Linked DNA regions of Homo sapiens: region 2 is linked to region 1. The links come from fine-mapping of genetic effects on gene expression. A gene starts in region 1. The other region holds a variant in brackets. All regions are shown on one strand. Distances are between the middles of the regions. Region 1 holds the start of EMD (emerin). Region 2 overlaps FLNA (filamin A).

Region 1 (2,892 bases):
AGTCCAAACTTCCCCAGCCAGTCCCCTCTGACCTTTGGTTAGAGGCCAGGAACCCACACCCTCCTGAATGGCTCTGGGTGTTCAGCCCTTTATCCATGGGGCCTTGCCACTTGTGCTCATGCCCCAGCATCCCCTTTTGCCCCCAGGACTCTCAGGAAGAGTCTGAGCCTAGATCCCAGACCAGGGTGCTCTAGTCACACAGAGTCTCCCCGGAGGCCCAAGAGCCACCATTTGTACCCAGTGCCCCCCTGGATTTATCCAAACACAGCCGCGATCCCCTAGGTTGTACCCAAGTACAGGACGCCTGCCAGCCAGCTCACCTGGTGATGGAAAGCGTCAGCATCTGGGAATGAAGTCACTGACTGGCGGACAGCCCTGGACGGGCCGGCAGACTCGGGCTCCCCATAAGTCCTGGTGGTGAAGTAGCTCTCTTCATAGTAGTCGTCATTGTAGCCTTGGGAAGGGGGGCAGCGGTAGCAGAGGGGGCATCGGTGTGCCCCGCCTGGCCTGATGGCCCTAATCTGAATCCCATTTCGGGACCTGTAACAGTTTCTCCCTCCTAAGGCTGCTGGAGTGGTTGGGACTGAGGTCTCAGGTCCTCCCTGTGAGCGGGGTCCCTGACGAAGTCGGGTGAAGGTGCCAGCGTGCCCACCCAACCCCTGCCTTACCCTTGCTCTGGTAGAGTAAAGCGTCCTCTTTCTTGGGAAGATCATACATATCTGCATCCCCTCTAGTCGAATTCAAGTCTGGATTGAAAGGAGGAGACAGAACTGTTTGCCCCCCCAGACTTCCCTCCCCTTTCTCCAGTGCCGCTCTCGACCGGCCCCCCTGCCACACCCTCGCGACCCCATCCTCCCCGCGTCCCAGGCTGTCCCCACAGGCGAGGCTCTCACCAGAGAAGCTATAAGAGGAGGCGGCGGACGAGCTGGGGGGCGAGAGCCGCCGCCTCTGGGTCTCGTACTCGAAGATCTTCTTCTCGTAAAGCCTACGAGTTGATCCTGGCCGGACACGGGGCGGTCAGGGCCGCGGGCCGGGGAAGGCGCGCGGGGAGGGCAGCGGGGAGGTCGCGAGGCGGAGCACGAGGAGGGGGCCCGGAAGGGGTCCCGCCCGCCGCCGCGTACCTACTACAGGCCCGTGCGGGATGTTGTACCGGCGCAGCAAGGTGGTCAGCTCGGTATCCGAAAGATCTGCGTAGTTGTCCATGGCGGGTGCGGGCTCAGGCGGAGGCCTGGCGGCGGCCCGGGCCTACCAAAACCGGCCGAGCAACGGCTGCCGAGGAGCACGGCGGGGGCGGCACGAGCGCATCGGGAGCGGCCGCGCTCGCGTCACAGCCGAATCGTTGTCGCGTCACAGCCGAATCGTTGTCGCGTCACGGCCGCTGGCTCCGCAGGCTGCGCGCGCTGCGCGGGGCGGGACCTAACCGCGGGAGCAGCCGGCACAGACCGGCCGTGCCCTGAGAGCTGGGAGGCTGGGGCCGCGAGCCCAAACGTCATCAACGCGAGGATTGGCTAGCGGCGGAGAGGGCGGGGCCCGCCCGGGAGTCAGGGCGGTGGGAACCGGTCTCGCGATGGGAGCGGGCGGGGCCGCAAGCCCATATGTCACAAGCACGGGGATTGGCTAGTGATGGAGGGGGCGGGGCCCGCGCGGGCGCGGAGCAAAAGGTCTCGCGGTGGGAGCGAGCGGGGCCGCGAGCCCATACGTCACAAAACGGGGATTGGCTAGCGATGGAGGGGGAGGGGCCCGCGCGGGCGCGGAGCAGAAGGTCTCGCGGTGGGAGCGAGCGGTACTGCGAGCCCGGACGCCACTAATGCATGGATTGGCTAGCGGCGTAGGGGGCGGGGCCCGCGCGGGAGTCAGGGCAATGCAAACCGGTATCGCTGTGGGAGCAGGCGGGGCTGCGGGCCCAAAAGTCACAAACGCACAGATTGGCTAGCGGCAGGGGGCGGGGCCCGCGCGGGAGTCAGGGCGATGCGGCTGGGAGCCCAGACGTCACCCTGTGGCGTGCGGCGGGGTGAGAGGGGCGGGGCCTGCGCGCGAGGGACCCGGGACGTGCGAGCGGGCGAAGTCGGCGCTTGGGGTGGCTCTGGTCCCTAAGTCGCTTGGGCTTCGCCCGATCCCTGCACATCCCTACTCCCCGCCGTCGTCCCCCTTCCCAGGGCCCCAGAGCCTAGGGTTCCCCGGCCGCATCCCGGTCGGCCGCCCCAGCAGCGGCGGGAAGGGCCCGGACCCTAAGAGAGCGCGGGCCCCGGGCCAGGCGCTGCCGAGGGCGCTTTGTGTGCGCATCGCCCGGGAAGCGGCTGCAGGGCAAGGCCCGCGCCTACGCGATCCCCGCAGACCCCCTGCCATGGGCCCGCCTTCCCAGTCTGCGGGGCTCTCGCCCGCGCACATGTGCCTGCTGCTTACCACCGCCTACCCCTCTGCTTCCCTTCCTCCTCCCTCGCTCCACCCGGGAGGAAATGGGGCACTGGGCCAGGAGGCCGCTGGCACTCCAGAAGCAAGCAGTCTTCGAAGGGGCCCGGGCATGCCGACGGGCACGCCAGTGGGCGCGGGCAGAGGGCGCCGTGCGATGCGTGCAGAGACGACGTGTGCCCGCCTAACCCTTCATGCCGTTCATTCACCCGGGGCACTGGGGGGAGCTGAAGTGGGGCGTCCTCTCCTGTCGGAATGGTCCCTGAGCGCAGCGTGGCTAGGCAGGGGGCAGACGTGGGTGGCGAGCTATGGATTCCCATTCCCAGGGCCTTGATCAGATATTGGCTGTCTCATGGAGAAGAGAAAGGAGGTGACATTCATCATTCATATTCTTTTTTTTTTTTTTTTTTTTTTGAGACAGTCTCGCTCTGTCACCCAGGCTGGAGTGCAGTGGTGCAATCTTGGCTCTCTGTAGCCTCCACC
Region 2 (2,892 bases), 28 kb after region 1:
TGGGGAGGGGTCCTGGGGCTCAAGCAGCCCCAAGAGGAGGGGTGGAGCCCAGGGCTGCTGCTCACTAGCCCATCCCCACCCTGCAGAAATTAGCATCCAGGATATGACAGCCCAGGTGACCAGCCCATCGGGCAAGACCCATGAGGCCGAGATCGTGGAAGGGGAGAACCACACCTACTGCATCCGCTTTGTTCCCGCTGAGATGGGCACACACACAGTCAGCGTGAAGTACAAGGGCCAGCACGTGCCTGGGAGCCCCTTCCAGTTCACCGTGGGGCCCCTAGGGGAAGGGGGAGCCCACAAGGTCCGAGCTGGGGGCCCTGGCCTGGAGAGAGCTGAAGCTGGAGTGCCAGGTAGGCCTGCTCACACCCCGAGTGCTCGCTCTCCTGCGTTGGCCAGGGTGGGGTTGGGGGTGGAGGAAAGAGCCGGCAGGCATGTCTACCTTGGCTATGCCTGGAGGGGGCCGAGGCTGGTGAAGCAGCCTTCAGTGAGGACAAACTGTTCTCCCACAGCCGAATTCAGTATCTGGACCCGGGAAGCTGGTGCTGGAGGCCTGGCCATTGCTGTCGAGGGCCCCAGCAAGGCTGAGATCTCTTTTGAGGACCGCAAGGACGGCTCCTGTGGTGTGGCTTATGTGGTCCAGGAGCCAGGTACTGGGAACCCGGCTGGGGTTGGAGGAGGTGGGGCCTGAGTGTGGGTATTGGACCCAGGGCTGGCACAGATAGCCCTGCCTGGCACTCACTCTTCACTTTGAGGTCACAGGGCCACCCAGGCTGTTCGTGGGAGGTGGGAGGCCCAAAGGCTGATGAGCCGGTCTTACACTCTTTCCCTGCCCAGGTGACTACGAAGTCTCAGTCAAGTTCAACGAGGAACACATTCCCGACAGCCCCTTCGTGGTGCCTGTGGCTTCTCCGTCTGGCGACGCCCGCCGCCTCACTGTTTCTAGCCTTCAGGTGAGGCACCGAGAGAAACCGCCCACCTGGGGCTCCTGGGCCCGGACAGACCAGAGCCACCGCAGAGACCAGGCCTTGGCCCTGTGTTCAGTGACCCCCCTGGCCCAGCTCTGGGTTCCAGGCCTCTGCTCTGGCCGGGTGCAGCCCACGCTTGGGGTCGGCAGGAAATATCCTGCCCACCACGTGGAGTTTTTCTCGTGTCTCAGGTCTAAAGGCTTTGAACAGAAGCCTGTGCCCCTTGAGCACCAGGGCTGCGGTTTAAAGAGGGACAGCCTGCCAAGGCTGGGTGCTGCCCACAGGGTGGGGCAGCCCTCCCTTCCTGCCACCTGGGTGTGTGCGACGGCAGAGTGTGGGGGCAGGGGCGGGGATGTGCGCCTGTGGCTTGCTGCCCCTTGCAAATCAGTGGCTCTCCCTCTTTAAACCAAGTTGGACGCCAGATGGGTAAGTGCGACCCGCGGGCCTCTTGCTCCTGGGGCCTTTCCGTCCTCCCTTGCCCTGGC[T/C]CAAGCACCCCCATCTAACCATGTCTGCTGTGCTTCCAGGAGTCAGGGCTAAAGGTCAACCAGCCAGCCTCTTTTGCAGTCAGCCTGAACGGGGCCAAGGGGGCGATCGATGCCAAGGTGCACAGCCCCTCAGGAGCCCTGGAGGAGTGCTATGTCACAGAAATTGACCAAGGTGAGGCCCTGTCCCTGCCCGGCCGCCCTGCCCTGCTGGCTGGAAGCAGGCTGAGAGTACAAAAGGAAGGTACCGCTTCTGTAAGCAGCCAAGACGGGGCCCCAACTCCTGGGCCCCCTAAGCCAGGCAACCCTTTCCCAATTGGTGACCCAAGCCGCTGGGGATGTGGCTCGCCACCCACAGCTATTAGGAAGGCCTTCTACCCTGCAGTACCATGCCATCTCCACAGGGAAAGACTCAAAGTCCAGCCTCAGTGCTGCCCGGCCCTTCAGCCACGGCCATGGTACTTGTGCACAGGCCTGGGGCAGCCTTGTGGGTAGGAGGAGCCCAGTGGGCTTCATTTCACGGCCTAGTCCTGCCCTTCCCAGCTGCATGACCTGAAGCAAGTTCCTGCCCGTCTCTGAGCCTGTTAACATGCAGGGGATATGGTGTTCACGGTAACCTTTCTTAGGAGGCAGCAAGGCCTGGGTTTGGCTTGTAAAAGATTTCCGTCCCAATGCACCCTGACGGTGGGCAGCTTGAGTGTCTAAACCTTCGGCCCTCAGGAGGTCTGCTGCGGGGTGCAGGTGCCCAGCGTGGCTGGGCTCACACTGATGGACCGGCAAAATGGGGAGGGCCAGGGTTGAGGCTGTTCCTCACAGACACCATCTGCTGGTTTGAGGAGGGGCCCCAGGCCCACAGCATGACTCCCTGCTCCTCAGATAAGTATGCTGTGCGCTTCATCCCTCGGGAGAATGGCGTTTACCTGATTGACGTCAAGTTCAACGGCACCCACATCCCTGGAAGCCCCTTCAAGATCCGAGTTGGGGAGCCTGGGCATGGAGGGGACCCAGGCTTGGTGTCTGCTTACGGAGCAGGTCTGGAAGGCGGTGTCACAGGTAAGTCTGTCGGTGCGGCTGCACGTGTGCACACAGCTGCTAGGCCCTTGCCTCCAAGCTCTTGGTGACAACAGGAGGCACCTGGAGGTGACAAGCCTGTGCTGGGTGGCCGAGGACAGGGAGGCAGGCCAGTCTGGCTCTGCCTGACCTCCTGTGCTCCCAGGGAACCCAGCTGAGTTCGTCGTGAACACGAGCAATGCGGGAGCTGGTGCCCTGTCGGTGACCATTGACGGCCCCTCCAAGGTGAAGATGGATTGCCAGGAGTGCCCTGAGGGCTACCGCGTCACCTATACCCCCATGGCACCTGGCAGCTACCTCATCTCCATCAAGTACGGCGGCCCCTACCACATTGGGGGCAGCCCCTTCAAGGCCAAAGTCACAGGTGAGCC

Evidence for each region. PIP is the estimated chance that this variant, and not a neighbour inherited with it, causes the effect.
Region 2: its variant is the best candidate, but not a certain one, in a credible set for the expression of EMD in whole blood (TOPMed, PIP 0.57).

What each region holds. Positions count from the first base shown.
Region 1 is chrX:154,377,796-154,380,687 of GRCh38, reverse strand. EMD (emerin) reads right to left here and starts at 1,393. Exons shown (of 6, transcript NM_000117.3): 1 at 1,122-1,393; 2 at 894-998; 3 at 669-746; 4 at 321-454. The coding sequence starts at 1,203. RefSeq lists an enhancer at 436-1,015 and silencers at 1,423-1,722, 1,733-2,152, 2,173-2,302.
Region 2 is chrX:154,349,642-154,352,533 of GRCh38, reverse strand. FLNA (filamin A) reads left to right here. Exons shown (of 48, transcript NM_001110556.2): 41 at 87-353; 42 at 513-650; 43 at 838-953; 44 at 1,493-1,625; 45 at 2,327-2,503; 46 at 2,667-2,885. Among named protein-coding and RNA genes, the nearest start is that of FLNA, 24 kb to the left of the region's middle. The variant T/C (reference allele first, on the strand shown) is at 1,454.